Linked DNA regions of Homo sapiens. The protein of the gene in region 1 purifies or fractionates together with the protein of each later gene. This does not show direct contact. Each region holds a gene or a part of one and is shown in the gene's direction. Other genes may lie near its edges.

Region 1 (4,692 bases):
GGTCCACGCCACCACAGCCGGCTAATTTTTGTATTTTTAGTAGAGACGGGGTTTCGCCATGTTGGCCAGGCTGGTCTTGAACTCCTGACCTCAGGTGATCTGCATGCTTTGGCCTCGCAAAGTGCTGAGATTGCAGGCATGAGCCAACGTGCTCAGCCCAGGTACTGTTGTTCTAAACCCTGGGGCACAGCCATGACCAAGCAGTCCCCTGCTTCTGCCTTCCAAGGCCACACACTCAGGTGGTTTCCACTCTTCCGGGACTTCTGGTCACATGCCCTCACTGTCCCTTTTGCAAATCTCCCACATGTGACTGCAGTCCCTCTGGAACCAGAACCCACCTGTCTGTCCCACCTGCCCTTGGTCACAGGTGTCCTTGCTCCTGTAGGGATGTCTCAGGTCTTCGGGGAGGGGAGGGGCAAATATCTCCTTCACCTTTGCAGGACTGGGTTACCCCCACCGTTGCCCTCAGGCTGGGTGAGGTCTGGCAGGCCAGATGGTGTGGACGGTCTCTCCATATGGCCTGAGGACCCCCCGCTGCCTTCCTCACACAGCACAGCATCCACCAGCATCAATGCTATGGCTGCAGTCACTGTAGAAGACCTCATCAAACCTCGGCTGCGGAGCCTGGCACCCAGGAAACTCGTGATTATCTCCAAGGGGCTCTGTGAGTTTCAGGGAGACCTGGGTGGGAGGCCAGGGCAGTCCCTCCCCGTTGACCGTGCCATCCTCATCCACTACAGCACTCATCTACGGATCGGCCTGTCTCACCGTGGCAGCCCTGTCCTCACTGCTCGGAGGAGGTGTCCTTCAGGTGAGACCCCACCTGCCCCCTGCCCTGGTCTCCTGAGAGGTGGGGGCACCTTTCCCTCTTTCCCATTAAACTGAGGCTCAGAGAGGTCACATGTGTCAGTGGCAGAACTCACTTCTATGTTTTTTTTTTTTTTGAGATGGGGTCTCACTGTGTTGTCCCAGGTTGGTGAGCAGAGGCCCGATCATAGCTCACTGCAACCTCCAGCTCCTGGGTTCAAGCCATCCTTCCACCTCAATCTCCCAAGTAGCTGGAGTTACAGGTGTGTGCCACCATGCCTGGCTAATTTTTTTCTTTTTTCTTTTTTTTTTTTTTTTGAGGTGGAGTGTCACTCTGTTGCCCAGGCTGGAGTGCAGTGGCATGATCTCAGCTCGCTGCAACCTCCACCCCCTGGGTTCAAGGAATTCTGCCTCAGCCTCCAGAGTAGCTGGGATTACAGGTGCATGCCACCATGCCCGTCTAATATTTTTGTATTTTTTTTTCTTGAGACGGAGTCTCGCTCTGTTGCCCAGGCTGGAGTGCAGTGGCACCATCTTGGCTCACTGCAAGCTCAGCCTCCTGGGTTCACGCCATTCTCCTGCCTCAGCCTCCCGAGTAGCTGGGACTACAAGCGCCCGCCACCACGCCTGACTAATTTTTTGTATTTTTAGTAGAGATGGGGTTTCACCGTGTTAGCCAGGATGGTCTCGATCTCCTGACCTCGTGATCCGCCCTCCTCGGCCTCCCAAAGTGCTGGGATTACAGGCGTGAGCCACCGCGCCCAGCTTATATTTTTGTATTTTTATTAGAGATGGGACTTCACCATGTTGGCCAGTCTGGTCTCGAACTCCTGACCTCAAGTGATCCACCCGCCTCTGCCTCCCAAAGTGTTGGGATTACAGGTGTGAGCCACCACGCCTGGCCTGGCTAATTTTAAAACTTGTTTTTAGAGACAGGGTCTCGCTTCGTGCCTAGGCTTGTCTTGAACTCCTGGCCTCAAGCAACCACCCGCCTCAGCCTTCCAAGTCGCTGAGATTAAGAACTAAGTTCTATTTGATGCCAGAGGCCATCAGGGGACTTTTTTGCAGCTGGCTGGCTTGGGGTGGGGGAATTGGGAAGGGGGAGGTGGCGACAGAAAGGGCCTCCCTATGGAGGTTGCAGTGAGCCAAGATCGCGCCACTGCACTCCAACCTGGACAGCAAAGTGAGACTCTGTCTAAAAAAAAAAAAGAAGAAGAAAGGGTCTCCCTGGCTTGAGGGTGGGACTGCCACCCCCAAGAGATAATCAGTGTCTTTGCCTCCAACCCAAGGGAGATAGGCAGGAACAAGGGGGGGGGGTCCTCTCCCCTTTAGGGAAACTGAGACACAGAGGAGTCCTTGAGACCCACATTGGAGTTCCTGAGGTCTCGCTTTCCCAGCGGGTAAACTGAGGCCCAGAGCGGTGGGAGGGCTCCGCCCTCAGCCCCACTTCCACCTACTCTCCCAGGGCTCCTTCACCGTCATGGGAGTCATCAGCGGCCCCCTGCTGGGAGCCTTCATCTTGGGAATGTTCCTGCCGGCCTGCAACACACCGGTGAGTGGGGGCGGGGCAAGGGGCGGGGAGGGGCGGGGCCGGACAGGCCCCTCCCCTTCCCTGACGCCGGCTCTGCCCCCAGGGCGTCCTCGCGGGACTAGGCGCGGGCTTGGCGCTGTCGCTGTGGGTGGCCTTGGGCGCCACGCTGTACCCACCCAGCGAGCAGACCATGAGGGTCCTGCCATCGTCGGCTGCCCGCTGCGTGGCTCTCTCAGTCAACGCCTCTGGCCTCCTGGACCCGGCTCTCCTCCCTGCTAACGACTCCAGCAGGGCCCCCAGGTGAGCAGACTTGAGGGTAGGGGGGTACCCGAGCCCTGGATGGTGTGATCTTGAAGGGAAACTTACTTGCCCTGCACTCTGTGTAAGAAGCCTGATTAGTAAAATGCATTCCTGGGGGAGGGAACGGTAGGTGCAAAGGCCCTGAGGCCACAATCGGGTTAGTCCCAGTCCAACTGCACTGAGGTTAGGGTGCATTTAATGGGAGGAGAGATGGGTGGGAGATATGGTGCAGCCAGAGGAAGCTAGTACTTTTTTTGTTTTGTTTTTCTGAGACAGAGCCTCGCTCTGTGGTCCAGGCTGGAATGCAGGGGTGCAATCTCAGCTTACTGCAGCTTCAACCTCTCAGGCTCAAGCAATCCTCCCAGCTTGAGGGAGGCCCAGAATTTGGTTTGGTTCTATTTTTTATTGAGATAAATTAGCCATTTAAAAGTGGCATTTAGGCCAGGCAGGCACAGTGGCTCACACCTGTAATCCCAGCACTTTGGGAGGCTGAGGCAGGTGGATCACCTGAGGTCAGGAGTTCAAGACCAGCTTGATCAACATGGGGAAACCCCCGTCTCTACTAAAAATACAAAACTTAGCCAAGCGTGGTGGCAGGTGCCTGTAATCCCAGCTACTCGGGAGGCTGAGACAGGAGAATCGCTTGAACCCAGGAGGTGGAGGTTGCAGTGAGCTGAGATCGCACCACTGTATTCCAGCCTGGGCAACAAAAATGAAACTCCAACTCAAATAAATAAATTAAAGTGGCATTTAGTATATTTGTGCAACCATCACCACTATCTAAGTCAAGAACGTTTCCTCTTTTTTTTTTCTAATTTTGTATTTTTAGTACAGATGGGGTTTCACCATGTTGGCCAGGCTGATCTTGAACTCCTGACCTCAGGTGATCCGCCCACCTCAGCCTCCCAAAATGCTGGGATTACAGGTGTGAGCCACTGTGCCTGGCCCCAAAAACATTTTCTATTTTTTTTTTTTTTTGGAGCAGGGTCTTGCTCTGTTGCCCAGGCTGGAGTCCAGTGGCACGATCATAGCTCACTGCTGCCTCAACCTCCTGGGCTCAAGGAATCTTCCTACCTCAGCCCCCCTAGTTGCTGGGACCACAGGTGCACACCATCATGTCCTGCTTGTTTTTATTTTTATTTTTTGTAGAGACAGGGTCTGGCTATGTTGCCCAGGCTGGTCTGGAATTCCTGGGCTCAAGCGATCTGCCCACCTCAGCCTTGCAAAGTGCCAGGATGACAGGTGTGGGCACCCAGCCAACCAAGAACATTTTCTGTTTTGTTTATTTATTTATTTATTTATTTTGGTTTTTTGGGTGGGTTTTTTTGCTTTTTGTTTATTTGATTTTTTGGAGACAGGGTCTCACTCTAACACCCAGGCTGGAGTGCAATGGCACAATCACAGCTCACTGCACCATTGACCTCCAGACTCCGATGATCCTCCTGCCTCAGCCTCCCAAGTAGCTGGGACTATAGGCATGTATCACCATGCTGGGCTAAATTTTTTGTATTTTTTATAGAGACGAGTTTTTGCCATGTTGCCCAGGCTGGTCTCAAAGTATTGGGCTCAAGTGATCTGCCTGCCTCTGACTCCCAAAGTGCTGGGATTACAGGTGTGAGGCACTGTTCCTGGTCATAAGAACATTTTTATCACCCCAGAAAGAAGCCCTGTCCCCATCAGCAGTCACTTCCCACTTCCCCCTCTCCCCAGCTCCTGGCAAGCACGAATCCACTTTCTGTTTCTATGAATTTGCCTGTTCTGGGCATTTCATGTAAATGGAATCATAAAATATGTGATCTTTTGTGTCTTAGCATAATACATATATATTTTTTGAGACGGGGTTTCACTTTGTCGCCCAGGCTGGAGTGCAGTGGCGTGATCCCAGCTCACTGCAACCTCTGCCTCCCAGGTTCAAGCAATTCTCCTGTCTCGGCCTCCTGAGTAGCTGGGGTCACAGGCATATGCCACCACGCTTGGGTAATTTTTGTATTTTTAGTAAAGATGGGGTTTCACCATATTGATCAGGCTGGTCTTGAACTCCTGACCTCAGGAGA
Region 2 (4,692 bases), on another chromosome or scaffold:
ATTTTGCTGATTATGATTATATTGGTCTATTACAACTGTGTAATGTGCTGTTAATTCTAAGAATGTAAAAATAAATTTTAATTTTATCTTCTAGCTTGCAAATGTCCTTGAGATTGACTTATCCCTGGTTAAGGTATGTTATTTTTATACTCATTTACTGGTGATGTGATAACTGAGTGGATTTTACTAGTAGATTTTTATCTTGATAAGCTACTGAGAAACGAAGACATTGAGATTGTTGTTAGCTGTCTGAGAGAACGTGCACAGTAAAGGGGCACTTGCAAAGACAGGAAAGAGCAGGAAAAGGGGCCCTAAATTGGGATTCAAACACATGGACTGAAAAGAGAGCACTCATGCAAGAAGCAGCCCAAGCAGTATCTTGTAGTGAGGTCCGTTAAAGCAACAACTCCTGCTTCATTAGGGGTAGATGTAGGGAGGGCAAGGCCAGAGAGTTGGAAACATTCCCTCCTATACATTTATGAAGACTTCAAGGGAGGAGCAGGTCTACTGAAAATAGTTTCTGGTTACGGGATGAAAATGTTTGAGAATCACTATTAGTCTATTACACTATTTTTTCTCTACAAATATTGTGATGTCTAGTTTATTTTAAATGGTAATTAGTTTCCTTTATATTCCTTTCAGAATGCTGTTTCAATGTATTGCCGATTGGGCTTTGCCCATAAGAAGGGACAAGTAATTAATTTGGATCAACTTCATTCATCATGGAAGAATGTTCCATCCGTAAACAGATTAAAGTAACTTAAATTTATTCAGTATGAGCTATTAGAGTTTCCTTTTGAAAAGACATTTAATTTTACATACATAAATTTATTTATTTATTTATTTATTGAGACAAAGTCTCTCTCTGTCATCCAGGCTGGAGTGCGGTGGCGCGATCTCGGCTCACTGCAACCTCCACCTCCCCGTTTCAAGCGATTTTCATGCCTCAGCCTCCTGAGTAGTGGGGACTATAGGTGTGCACCACCATGCCCAGCTAATTTTTTGTGTTTCTGTTAGAGGTGGGGTTTCACCATGTTAGCCAGGCTGGTGTCGAACTCCTGGCCCCAACTGATCCACCCACCTTGGCCTTCCAAAGTGTTGGGATTGCAGGTGTGAGCCACTGCACCTGGCCCAGAAATTTTATTTATTCAACCTGTCAGTTGAGGTGAGCCCTTTATATTAGTGATTTTTAATCTTGTGTGTGTGTTACAGATCTTTTTTGGAATATAATGAAAACTAAGAAGGCTTTTCCCAGAAAAAAAGCAAATAAATATTTTACATAAAATCTTGAAGGGTTCTTGAATTTTCTGAAGCCTATCCGTGGATCTTAGTTAAGAACCCTTGTTGTATGTAGGCAGAGCATTTTTGGGCTGCGACTTAATTTTGGGCTTGAATATAAGACTGAATTTTGATGGATTGTTCATAATTTAAGTCTTAACTTCAGTAGATATTTTAATGTAAGGTCATTTATATGATTTTTAAAAAGCAAATGCATTCTTCATTAATAGGAGTACCTTAGATCCACAGAAGATGCTCTTGTCATGGGATGGAGGGGAAAGTAGGAGTCCTGTACAAGAAGCTTCATCGGCAACTGACACTGATACAAATAGTCAAGAAGATCCAGGTTAGCAGTAACTCAGTTTAACATAGAGTCTGTCTGTAGGTACGGCACATGTCCAAACATACACTCTTACAGTTACCTTCTAATTTTAGTTTAGATTTTATTCAATACGCAGTCTTTGAGTGTTTTACTATATTTTGGGCACTGTGCTAAGTCCTAGGTATATAAAACTGACAAGAATATGGTACCTTTCTTCTAAGAATTAAGTCTAAGGAGAGAGAAGGGAATGTGACCAAACAAATTACAACAACACGGGCACCAATTATAATGCTTGTAGGGTGCAAAGAGGAAGAGACCCTTAATTGGCTAGAGAGGTTTGGGAAGCCTTCACAGAGAAGATGTTATTTGAGCTAAGAATGAAGAAGAGCCTGCCAGCTGGTCAGGGAAGGAAAGCCATTTCAGCCCGAGAGAATAGTGAGGCTAAGCCCAAAGGGAAACACAGCATAGTGGACAAGGCCTAGGGTTAAATGCTTTTTAATATTCTTTGCGCTTCAAAATAGGTATGGCTGGAACTTCTTATGGCTATAATAGTGCCTTTTTAAAATTATGTACTTTCTGGTTATCAAATAAAGCTGAAATGAAATACTTTCACTCCAAATGGTAAGCAAAGAATAATTTCCATTTACTTGATTTTAAATTATGGTGTTTTTCAGCTGACACAGCCAGTGTAAGCAGCCTGAGTCTGTCTACAGGACACACGAAGCGCATCGCATTCCTGTTTGACTCCACTCTTACTGCCTTCTTAATGATGGGAAATCTTTCACCAGTAAGCCCAATTCTTGTTTAAATATGAAGGTGTTTAAAATAAATACTAGATATAAAATAATTTAATGCTTTTATATCTTTTTTAAAGTACTACATTTATTCCCGAAGCACAACTGACTTAGAGGAGTATAATAACTTTCAGGGAAGGTCCTTTTGTAATTGGAAGAATTAGCCCCTCACCCCCCAATCCTTAAGTTTAAATATATTTGAAAGGATAATATAAATATTTGATAGTATGCTTAGCATAAAAAGGGAGAAGTAGAACTTTAATATTTTGTTTCTTTTTTTCAGAACTTGAAAAGTCATGCAGTCACAATGTTTGAAGTAGGCAAACTCTCAGATGAGTCTCTGGACAGCTTTCTTATAGAACTAGAAAAGGTAAATGTAGATTGCATGTAAGGGGATGTTAGGGCATTTGGAATCTGTCCTTGCTTGACAGAATGCCAATTATACAGTCTGTTGATTTGGATGGGCTTTCAGTGTATTCTTGCTCGTTCCTACCTCATTCCCCAAATTAGTACTCTTACAGTCATTTAGACTTAAACATATTGAGTGGGTGAATTGATTTTGTGATTTTTAAAGTGATATGTCTACCTCATCTAATTCTTAACATAATTTGAGATAATGAAGAAATGGGGTATAGAAATTTTAGTCTGTAATGTTTTAAGTTGAATTTTTGCTAAAATAGCCTTTCAATTTTTTTTCTGGTATGACTCTCTAAGATCACCTCTTAAGCAGTTTGATTTGAAGTTTTTGTTCCATTTACCTTGAATCTGGAACAATATCCCTGGGTATCATATTTATGTCCGCTCTCACTATCCCTTTTAGCATCTTGAAGACTTCAGCCATATTTGCTCTTAACCACCTTTTTCCCCGTGAGTACAGCCCTAGTTTTCCTTAGCTCTAAATAAATCTGATTGCCCTTTATTGGTGTTTTTCATTCTTCGGATATTTTATTCTGGCCTCTTTGTATTCAAATAGTTTGTGTGCCTAATCTGTTCCTTGACTAATACTTTTCGTGCCTTTTGTGCTTTATGATGAACTTTGTATTTTCAATGCACTGTTTAGAGAATTTGTGGTGATTCTGCAACTCCTTTATATCTTAAAAAAAAAAGACTGTAACATTTTTCACTGCTCCTACTCCATAGGATTTTTACTTTTATTAGTGCAGAAATATGTGTGAGATAATCCTTTGCTATTAATTGGTCTCTTTTACTTTTACCTTTATACTGCCATTTATTTCTTCATGCTTCTTTATTTGTTAACCCCATTTCTTATTGTATATTATCTTCTACTAATAAATTTCTTACTATGTTACTGCACATTTCAAGTTCTGGTTTTCTGATTTTTATCTTTTTTTCACCTCAGCTAGTCTTTTATCAAATGTAGCAAATTGCAAGTTGACTTCTGCTCTTTTACTCATAAATCTATGTTCTTTTTCATCACAAAGTCATTCTTGGGAAAGCCTTTCAGTCTGAGGCTTAGTTTTTAAAGTGGATTCTTAGCTATTTTTTAAGTAGTTTGATCTTAAGATTGATTTCTTAAATGTATGCAAATCTGATTTAGTTATTTTCCCGTTGGTAGACCTATCATTCCATTTTCTGTGTTGTTTCTGGGATATATGTCTCTACTTATTAAAAGGTGACTTATTCAGACTTATTCAGAAGAGCATACATTAAACTATAAGGCCAGTGAAGGCAGGGGTTTTGTCCATTACTCTATCCTTATCTCCTAGGGAGGTCATAGTCCATAGGAGGCACTAAGTAAATCTTTGTTGAGTGAATTTAAGCTGTGTGTTCAGCAATGGTGAACAGCTATGTTGAATCACAGACTCCAGTGTCTCTTGTAACTGGTAATACAGAATTGTGAACAAAGTTATGAGAATTATAGGTAAAACTGGTGACCTTGGAGTACTTTCCTAGATGGAGCAGAATACGGGTTTTAGAGTTGTTTAAGCACTCTATTTGAATCATTTGGAACATGTAACATATAATGCTATAACTTAGCATTATTCAATTGCTAAAATTGTTAGTCTTAGTTGAAGTAATTTCTATCTCCATAGATGTAGTAAAATTGGGAACTCAACCAAGACTGAGGTTAATAACTTGTTTCGGTATTGCCTGGGCAAATTTTTGATTTACTACTTTTGAATAATGTCTTATATCTCTATTATATGATTATTAGAGTGAATGGCATAAAAGTGGTATTTTTGTTGCAAAATCTATTTTCTCTTGGTTTAGGTTCAGAGCACTGGTGAAGGAGAAGCACAGAGATATTTTGATCATGCACTTACTCTGAGAAACACA
Region 3 (4,692 bases), on another chromosome or scaffold:
TGATTTCATTTATTCTCTAATAATGCTGACCGTCCCATTATGTGCTTATTGGCTATGTGTTTTCTCTTCTCTGAAATGTCTGCACCCTTGCCCCCCTACACACAATGAATTGTTTGTACTTTCTTGTTGATTTGTAGGAGTTCATTATGTATTCTTGATGCTTATTTGTGTTGATTTTGTGTAATGAAAGCATCTTCTCCCACTTTGTAACTTCTATTTTTACTGCATAGTCTCTTAATAAACATTTTAAATTTTACTACAGTTAAACTGACCAATTTTTTAAATCTTTTTTTTCTTTTTTCTTAAGAAAATATTTCCTACTCTTAGGCCCAGAAGATATTCACATATATTTTCTACTAAGAATTTCAAGGTTTTTGACATTTAAGATCTAAATCCAATTGGTAGCCATTTTCTCTCTCTCAACTTACTGAAAAGTACCATATTTCCTATTGTCTGACATGCTATGTTAGTCATATACCAATGTTCTGGATATACCATTTGTCATATACCAAAGTTCTAAGCTCTCAATCTTGTCTTATTAGTTTGCCTGACTCTGTACCAATATAACACTATCTTAATAAATAAATCTTCATTAAAAATACTTAATCTGATAAAAAAAGTTCCTCCTCCCTGCTATTTCTCAGAAACATTTTAGCCATCATTTGCCCTTTATTTTTCTGTTTGGAATAATATTTTCAAATTCTATAAAAAATGTTTTGGTGTTTTGATTAGTATTGAATTTGTAGATCAATTTGTGAGAGAATTGACATCTTCATAATATTTTCTATCTATGAACATGGTATGTTTATCAACCTTTTTAGGATTGTTGACATTCTTTGATATAATTTTATTACTTTGCCCATAGAAATCTTACGTATTTTCTGTTTTTGTTTATAGATATTTCATATATTTAAATTTCATTTATTTCTACTTTTATTTGTACTTGTCCCTGAATTTGAAGTTTTTCTCCTATATTTCTATATTTACATTTTAAGACACTAACATAAGAATACATAGTTGAATACTTATTTTATCCCCAAATAAGTTAAAGCAGGCTCCTGTCCTTTTGACTCGATCATTTTTTAAGAATTAAATTATATTAGAGAATTGAATTAGAGAAGTGATTGGTAGCATTTTGATTAGATAAGAACAAAAATCTTTGACTATTTTTCTTCTACAAATAATACTTTCAGTATTGTATGGGAATAGAGACGAAGCAGGAATAAATAAATGCTGTTTAATGGTTTATATATTTTTAAGCACATAAACATGTACATGGAGAAGGGAAGGTGTGTCAGCCTGCAGTTGGATTTCGTAAAAATAAACCTTGGCATAATTTTTGACCTCATTAAGCAATATGGATTCATAAATTCAGTATCAATTATGCAAGCAGTATATTTTTCTAATAAAATTATATTTATATAGAAGCATTATTTTCTATATGTGGGCCCACTAAAAATACCAAATGTTTTTAGTAAAGTTAAAATTATGAATCATAAAAATATATAAAACTGAATTATCTTCTTGCATGGTCAGGATGGAAGAATTTTCAATTTCTCATGATTTGTGAATATAAAATTGGCCTTCCTGGGATTTGGATCAGAATTGCTCATGCAATGAAGTCTAGACTCTTGTTACACAAATTTATCAGCCATTGCCAACTTTCCAGATTTCTTTTGTTGCAGAAAAGTCCTTGAGAATAGGCACCATAAGGAAATTCAGTTGAGAGAGTATAAGAAAATGTGTATACTGCGCCAAATATTTCTTATAATTGACTTGTGACATAACTATACACAAAGTGAGCTTTTTTTACCAACATTTTTCCTCCTGAGTTTCATGGACAAATCTAAATTCTAATGACTTCACAAATACAACTACAAATAGATTACATTTGAAGGAAAAAGGTATTTGTCTTTTACAATCAGTATGCAGGGTATGCTAGAAAAGGAAATGTAACCCAAATCATTTTAAAGAAGGAAAGTATATGCTTGCATATAAATGATCCAAAGTCTTGCTTTTAAAATTGGCCTGTGGCAATACATATATAAAGTCTTTTAACTGAGTATAAATTTAGCTGCCTTTCAGTTTTTTAGTTAGCTTGTTTCTTTCTTACTTTTACTTTTTGTGTTTTTTTGCTTTTCTGGAGAGAGAGTTAATGTTAGTCCAACTGGAAGAATTTTGAGTAAAATGGAACACAAAAAATTAATTGAAATGTTAGCAATTTCCATGACCATAAATAGACTGTCAGTTCATAAAATTTTATCATTAAGCCATGAGAAAAACATTCTCACTTGAAAAGATGAAATTCATTGAAGATAGAATAATCTACATTTACATATGTTTTTACTTTGGTTATATAAGTTTTAATATATTTTCTTAAATATTAAGAAATAGAGTGTGTTTCTGTTTAGAAATATGGCATTGTTTGAATTACTTTTAAATTTTTCTACAACCAATACTTACTATTGCATCATTCCAAAAAGATCATTTTTATTTCAAAACATCCCAAGTAATATAGGAAAATAAGAAAGGCTATATAATGTTTATTTGGCTTGTTACTGATTGAATTTCCCCCTGTGTAAAAATACTTAGAAGATGCAGTCCCAGAAAAACATATAACATTTTCTTTTAAATTTAACAGTAAAGAAGAATCATCAGTAACATCAGAAGAAAATAACTTTGAGAATCCAAAGAATACAGGTAATATTCTTCATTAATTTTAAAACCAAATTTGTCTCTTTTGTGAAAGTCTACAATTAAAACAATCTTACATAGGCACAATTATATTAACTTTTCAGATACCTATATCCCAACAATCATTTGTTCTCATGAGGACAAGGAAGATTTGGAAGCCAGTAATCGAAATGTAAAAGATGTAAACAGGGAACATGATGAACATAATGAAAAAGAATTAGAGTTGATGGTAAGTGTTCTGGTTGCCACGGTATTAGAGAAGATGAATCCATTTCTGCTTCAAAGATGCTGCAATGCCTGCCTTTCAATAGCTTCAACTAATATAATTTGCAAATGTGAAAGCACAGCCTATTCTGTCCTTGCGTCTCTAGCTTGATCAACAAGGCACTTTGATTTCTGTATGTTGCTTCTGGTCTCTGCAGTGGTAAATTAATGACATTCATTTCTTATCTCTTTACCAGTGGCTCTGAGTAATAGTTTGCAGGAATTACAGGAGAGGTAGCACTATCCTGATGTGCATTTCTAATCTTTGTGACAAGTGTATACTTAGCATAAACTCGTCTATAAAATGAGAGGGCTGGACTAGAGGATTGTTAGTGTCCTGTCCTACTCTAGAAGTCTATGATTCTCACATGTAACAGCATTTTTTAAAAAATTCCATCCTTGTGAGAATCTCCAAGTTCTATATCATTGTAGAGTATTAAATTACCAAGTAAAAAGAAAATAGCCTGTGCCATAATTTTAAAACAGGAAACAAATTCAGTACTATACAACTTAGTATTAAATTTGTTATAAATTTCATACTTGGTGAGCATTCAATCTATTTGGAATTTTTTGGGGGGATGGTTTATACAGCACTTTTATCACAAAGGAAGAAATAGGAGTAAATGAGTCACATAATGCAATTTATCCTTTACTGTATTTGGATGGAGCTCATATCATTGGAATACATGGATTCATAATCATCTAAGATTAAAATGACATTTGTCTCTTCAAGTGTCAGTGCTGAAACAGGAAAGAAATAGAGCTCATCTATTTCCCCACATATTCCACCTTTTCTATAGTGATCGCGGAGCTGCATCACTAAAGTATGCAATTTACTTTGCTCCAACTTTAAGAAACTACAAAGTTGTCACCCATTGTGAGAATTCTCACCAGCTGAAAGTTAACATGGCCATTTTTTTCAAACCACAGAATATAATGAAAGGGCCCTGAAAAATCACATACTTCACCAATACATCTCATTACGATGAGCAGGCTCAAATATAAAAGTTTGTTTAGAAGTTACTGAGATTGTACATCCAATAAATGAACAGGGAGCTGTAATTTAGATGCTAATTTGCTCCATGCTGACGTTAATGCATAAAACAATGAAGCTCTATAATAGATGGAAATACAACCAAATCTGTGGAACCCACAGGCATTGGCTTACAAGACAGCTGTGCAGTTGACAAGTAACATGAGCCTTATGTGAGAAGAAGGGGAAAACGTAAGATTTGCATATAATTATTGAGATCATGCAAATGTCAGTTATGAGGAGAAAAAAAAAAAAACACAGGCATCTCACTGTTAAATCCTGACAGTTGGCATCACTGAAGAGCTCAAATACATTTGAGTACCAGTTGGCAGAGGGTCATTAAAACAGAATTTGCAGAGACATTAACTCCCTCACTTTTCTTTGAGTGACGTTTTGCTATTAATAGTTTGCAGAGGCTTTGCAGAAAACATATTAATAAGAGAAACTGTAATGGGGGCACCTACAGCAAGTGTAAATGCAGCAAGGGGCACCCAGGAAGCTGCTGTCTAATTGATTAGCATGGAGCTATCAATGTGTATAGTCTAAGTGAGGAGAAAGTGCAATGACAAGCAAGAACAGTTGAATAATACAATGTGATAGTTGGAAGCTGGGAAGGAGAGTGATAAATTTGGGCCCCCTTTCTTACTAATCTCGTTCCCCAGTCATAGCCTGCAAGGATTTCCCCAAAACATCTGGCTTCC
Region 4 (5,336 bases), on another chromosome or scaffold:
TTTCAGAAACTATTGCAGTGGCTTAGGTTTAAAAGACAAGAAACAACAAATGATCAGTTCCCCAGTGATCAGTGATAGGTCATGTTGATACCGTGTACCCACAGATACCAGGCAATGAGAAAGGCACATAATCTCTGTAGCATTCTTCCTAAACATCCACAGCTTCAGTCCAATCATGAGAAAACATCAGACAAACCCAAACTGAGGGATAGTATACAGAAACCAGTACTGTTCAAAAGTGTCAAGGTTTTTGAAGACAACTGACTGAGAAACTGTCACAGATTAGAGGAGGCTAAGAACACAGGAAAACTAACTGCAATATGGTATCCTGAATTGGGTCCTGGAATAGAAAACGGACATTAGTGGAACAGTTGGTGAAATTAAAATAAAATCAGTAACACAGTTAATAGTTTCGTATCACTGTTAAGTTTTTAGTTTCATTGGTTATATAAGCTGTTAACATAAGGCAATATGGGTGATGGGTATGTGGGAACTCCCTTTATTACCTTTGCAACTTTTCTGTAAGTCTAAAATCATTCTTTTTTTAAGTTAAAACAGCAAAACTACCAGTTCTTTTACCTGCTTCTAGCAGGTGCTCAAAGAGGGACAGAGCAAAACCTTGCAAAGCATGACATTAGAGGGTGTCCCAGAAGCAAGGGTCTTCTGTAGCCCCAGGCACTGCTGCTCCCAAACTGCATGGCCTTTCTTGGCAAATGATTTACAATCTCCGAACCTCAGGTCAATGTCTTAAAAACGGGCACAGAATGTCTTTTCAACAAATGGTACTAAGAAAACTGGATATCCACATGAAAAAGAGTAAATGTGGACTCATACCACATATGAAAATTAACTCAAAATGGATTAAAGGTCTAAGAGTTTAAATTATAAAACTCTTAGGAGAAAACATAGAGGAAAATCTTCCTAACATTGTATTTGGCTATGACTTCACTGCGACACCGAAAGCACACGCGACAAAATAAAAATAAAATAAAATAAAATAAGACCAGAAAAGCAAAGAAGGGCAGCATCCCTTCCCGTCCTGATAGCTGCCGGATTTTACCCCAATCGTGTTTCTGCTTCCAGGAGCTGTCCGCGCGTCGCCTCTGTTTTATCACTAAGGTTTTAATTGTGAATAAACAAGGAACTGGATTCGAATGATTTCTTAGTTTCTGAGATTTTTTTGTCTAAGCATCGTAGACTTCGTGCGTTCTCAACCCAACAGGAAGCGTCACATCTCAGTGAGCTTCGGCTCTCACAGCCCGAAACTGCAAGGAGCTCCTCTGCCCGGCCTCTCTTTACTCCTCCTCTCTGCCCCTCAGCTCGCTCATCTTTCTTCCCGCCCCCTCTCTTTTCCTTCTTTGGTTCTTTGAAGTGATGAGCTAGCGCAACCACAAACCATACATTCCTTTTGTAGAAAAACCCGTGCCTCGAATGAGGCGAGACTCAGAGAGGACCCAGGCGCGGGGCGGACCCCTCCAATTCCTTCCTCGCGCCCCCGAAAGAGCGGCGCACCAGCAGCCGAACTGCCGGCGCCCAGGCTCCCTGGTCCGGCCGGGATGCGGCCGGTACCCGCTCCCCGCCGGGAACAACCTCTCCACTCTTCCTGCAGGGAGCTGGTGCCAGCCGACAGCCGCGCCAGGGCCGCTCCGGGTACCAGGGTCGGATCGGGTGACGTCGCGAACTTGCGCCTGGCCGCCAAGCCGGCCTCCAGGCTGAAGAAGGACCCGCCCCGGCCTTGACCCGGGCCCCGCCCCTCCAGCCGGGGCACCGAGCCCCGGCCCTAGCTGCTCGCCCCTACTCGCCGGCACTCGCCCGGCTCGCCCGCTTTCGCACCCAGTTCACGCGCCACAGCTATGTGTCCCCGAGCCGCGCGGGCGCCCGCGACGCTACTCCTCGCCCTGGGCGCGGTGCTGTGGCCTGCGGCTGGCGCCTGGGAGCTTACGATTTTGCACACCAACGACGTGCACAGCCGGCTGGAGCAGACCAGCGAGGACTCCAGCAAGTGCGTCAACGCCAGCCGCTGCATGGGTGGCGTGGCTCGGCTCTTCACCAAGGTTCAGCAGATCCGCCGCGCCGAACCCAACGTGCTGCTGCTGGACGCCGGCGACCAGTACCAGGGCACTATCTGGTTCACCGTGTACAAGGGCGCCGAGGTGGCGCACTTCATGAACGCCCTGCGCTACGATGCCATGGTAAGACCCGAGCCCGCGCCCGGGATAGTAGTCCCGGACTGAGAGAGGAGCCGGGCTGGAAAAGCAGCGGATGGCAGAGTGTGGCAAGCCTAGGTCCAGGGCGCGGAGAGATGTGGGGATAAAGTGAGACTCCGGCCAGTGTGCCAGCTGGATGCATAGAAGTCCCTTGGACGATTCGTCTTAAACGGACGTTATTGCGCCCCCACTATGAGATGGGAGTATTTAGAGGAGCAGGACCCAGTCCTGCCTGCGAGGGGCTTAAGGTGGGGTGCGTAGAAGCACTGACAGTTATCCAGAGCTAGGGACTGAATCGGATCCCTCACGCAGCTCTCATTTACTGCTAGATCTTTCAAAGAATGCTTTATCTCAATCTAGATCTTTCGAAAAATGCTTTATCTCAATCTTATTGAAAGGGAAACCGCGTCGAAGAAGCTGAATAAATTAACAGGCACCATCCCCGCAAAAAGGGAGACGTGATAAGAATGGACACCAGATCTCTTTGACCCCGGAGCTTGAGAGTAATTAAGCTCACAGCTTTGGGGTAGATTCTCTGTTCAATTACCTTCTATGTGACCTTGAGCAAGTTATTTACTCTTTCTTGCCTCAGTTCTATCCTGTATAAAAATAAGGATTATAATTGTACATAGTGCACATAGTGTGGTCTCTATATTATTACCAGACACATAGTGTGGTGTCTATATATGTTGTTATTACCAGACACTATAATATAGGGTTAAGAAAAGGAAAGAAAGAAAGAAAGAGAAAGAAAGAAAGAAACTTCAGAGAGAGCCAAAATGTGGAAAGACTTGGGTTTCAAAGGATTTCAATAAAGTAGGTTTGGCGGCAGAGATTTAGGAAGAGTCCAACTTAAGAGATAATGGGCTCTTAAAACATGTGCAAAAGTTTAGTTCAAAGTCCCAAATGTTAGGTTAAAGGTAATGCCTTTTCTATTGCACTAAATTCTAGAAAGGGAGCAGAGGTGGTTGCACAGTAATAAATAAGTACAACCAAGATGTATATATGGTGGTTAAAAAAAAAATAAAACCACCACCCAAATTTAACCCTGTGTAAAAGCCTTGAGTAAAGGGATTCAGCAAGACTGTGGAGAAACTTGGGAGAAGAAAAAAGAGCTTTGGAAGAGGAAGAACTGAGAAATCTCCAGAGAAACGTCCAGAGAAATCTGTGAAGTCCACAAGTGTGGAAGGGAAAGGGAAGTGTGATTAGGCTGGGATACAGAAGGCTAACAGTACACTTTATATGAGAAGAGCTTAGAGGTCAGGAGAGCACAATGCTGAGGGGTTTGTTTGGTTTTATTTTCCCCTCTGGAAACTTGGAGAAAGGAGGACAGGAAAAGATGATAAGAGGGCACCATTGTTTGGTTTTAAAGGTCCCTCCCCAACCCCCCACAACAAGAAAGCTCATTTTAATGAGATGAGAGAAGGGGAGAAAGCTCCCTCCGTTCTGATGCTTTTGAGCTTATCAGGGACACCCTGCAGCAGAAATTCCAGCTGATCCTTCAGCCTTCAGAGTTGATGAGGTGGGGCTCACACACATCTGGATTTGAAGAAGAATCGTGGGTTTCAAGAACTCTGTGGTCTCTTAAGCATTGGTATTCCACAGCTACACTTCCCTGATACTTTGCACTCAGTAATGACAAAATAAATATTTGTAGAATTGAGTTGTTGCTACCCTGTGTCTCCACTTCCTCCCAGAAGGGTAGAATAAACTTACATGTGTTTGTTTTATTTTGCATATAAACCACGACTTTGTAAACTTTACTTTTTGTGACACTCTTTTCTCCACAATTGTGTGAACCCTTTTTAGTGGAAAAATAAGAATGAAGAATTCCTAGTTTTCCCTAATAATATTTCCCTCTTGTAAGTCTAGTTGAGCTCCTGGTGTTAATCATGGTATCAAATGTTTATGACAGGACATCTAGGTGAGGCCTGAGTAAACTGCTGTAAGTTACAGCCTATCTCTTCTGTGTTTGTTCAGAATCCTTTTTGTTGGATGAAATTACTTTCTTTCAAATTTTGCTCAAGAAAATTGAATTGGGTTCTGAGGAAAAATAGGCTACTTACGTAATGTTGGCAGGGGGTAAAGATTGGGAGCGGATCACATGGCAAGGTTAGATGGCTGTGTCCTCAGGACTTACTCTGTGCAGTTTGGGGGTGTGTCAAACATGATTTGACGTGCATAAAATCCCAGTTCTGTAGTGCTAAAGCATGTGCTAAAGCTCTGCTGTACTCCAGTATTGCACAGATGTTTCACTGTCAATTGTTTATATTATACTAACCCTCAGAGAATTTATTGCTGTTGTGGTATAAACGTTCCTCCACTGTAACCACTCACCGCATATTGATTCCTAGGACACTGGGGATTCAAATCAGGGTGGAAAACAGTTGTGGAGGGGCATCTCCAGTTTCCTGGAGACTGGACCTAGTTCAAAGGAGCCACATAAAAGGACTGAAGCATATGGAGGACAAAGAGGAATTTCCTAGAATCCAGCTAAAACACAGGAGTCCCCTCGAGCAGGAACTTCCAAGGAGGTGTACACTTTCTAGACCTACTGGAGTAATCCTGATTGCTGTAGAGGACCCAGGGCAATCCTGGAGACCCCCTGGAACCACTACTAGGCAGAAAACTGGGAAGAGGATGGCAAAACTCTCCAGTTAGTGTAGCTGTCTCAGTGGAAGGACTGTTGTCCCCTGAGGCACGAGGAAGACAGCATGGAAGCACTGACAGTATGCGCTTGGCCTGGTTACTTTCTCTGAGCTTCATGTTCCTTAGCTGTAAAACAGGAGTGATAACCCCCATCTTGCAGAGGTTTTGTGAGGAATACATGAGATAATCCCTGCTGGTGCTCACTGAAAGTGAGTTTCATGTGCCCTGGGTGGGGAGGAGGGGAATTGTGAGGAAGGGAAGGTTTGGGTTGTGCATCAGATTATCTGATTCTCACAGCCTGGCACAGTCTACCACCTGCCTGCCCTCTACCATCTTACCTAAGTACCATTGCCTAAACTATTTTTGCTATAGTTACTCATTGAGCAGACTTATGAAATCTCCCCACAGCACAAAACTGAAGGTATCCACCTCCAGAGGTGAGATTCTCACCAAGACAGGCTGTGGGGAAGGTAGCTTTGA

Evidence for each region.
Region 2: the proteins of SLC5A5 (region 1) and FAM91A1 purify together in Homo sapiens (affinity purification with mass spectrometry; one large-scale study listed by BioGRID and IntAct). This does not show direct contact.
Region 3: the proteins of SLC5A5 (region 1) and PPP1R3A purify together in Homo sapiens (affinity purification with mass spectrometry, with the first as the bait; one large-scale study listed by BioGRID). This does not show direct contact.
Region 4: the proteins of SLC5A5 (region 1) and NT5E purify together in Homo sapiens (affinity purification with mass spectrometry, with the first as the bait; one large-scale study listed by BioGRID). This does not show direct contact.

What each region holds. Positions count from the first base shown.
Region 1 is NC_000019.10:17,881,409-17,886,100, forward strand, and holds part of SLC5A5 (sodium/iodide cotransporter), read left to right. Parts: intron 1-551; coding exon 552-664; intron 665-740; coding exon 741-811; intron 812-2,272; coding exon 2,273-2,359; intron 2,360-2,441; coding exon 2,442-2,638; intron 2,639-4,692. UniProt on the Homo sapiens protein: Sodium:iodide symporter that mediates the transport of iodide into the thyroid gland. Can also mediate the transport of chlorate, thiocynate, nitrate and selenocynate.
Region 2 is NC_000008.11:123,784,987-123,789,678, forward strand, and holds part of FAM91A1 (protein FAM91A1), read left to right. Parts: intron 1-94; coding exon 95-133; intron 134-642; coding exon 643-755; intron 756-1,508; coding exon 1,509-1,624; intron 1,625-2,274; coding exon 2,275-2,387; intron 2,388-2,677; coding exon 2,678-2,764; intron 2,765-3,214; coding exon of another isoform or gene 3,215-3,247; exon of another isoform or gene 3,248-3,261; intron 3,262-4,626; coding exon 4,627-4,692. UniProt on the Homo sapiens protein: As component of the WDR11 complex acts together with TBC1D23 to facilitate the golgin-mediated capture of vesicles generated using AP-1.
Region 3 is NC_000007.14:113,880,270-113,884,961, reverse strand, and holds part of PPP1R3A (protein phosphatase 1 regulatory subunit 3A), read left to right. Parts: intron 1-2,641; coding exon 2,642-2,700; intron 2,701-2,798; coding exon 2,799-2,923; intron 2,924-4,692. UniProt on the Homo sapiens protein: Seems to act as a glycogen-targeting subunit for PP1. PP1 is essential for cell division, and participates in the regulation of glycogen metabolism, muscle contractility and protein synthesis.
Region 4 is NC_000006.12:85,448,287-85,453,622, forward strand, and holds the start of NT5E (5'-nucleotidase isoform 1 preproprotein), read left to right. Parts: upstream 1-1,796; 5' UTR 1,797-1,853; coding exon 1,854-2,192; intron 2,193-5,336. UniProt on the Homo sapiens protein: Catalyzes the hydrolysis of nucleotide monophosphates, releasing inorganic phosphate and the corresponding nucleoside, with AMP being the preferred substrate. Shows a preference for ribonucleotide monophosphates over their equivalent deoxyribose forms.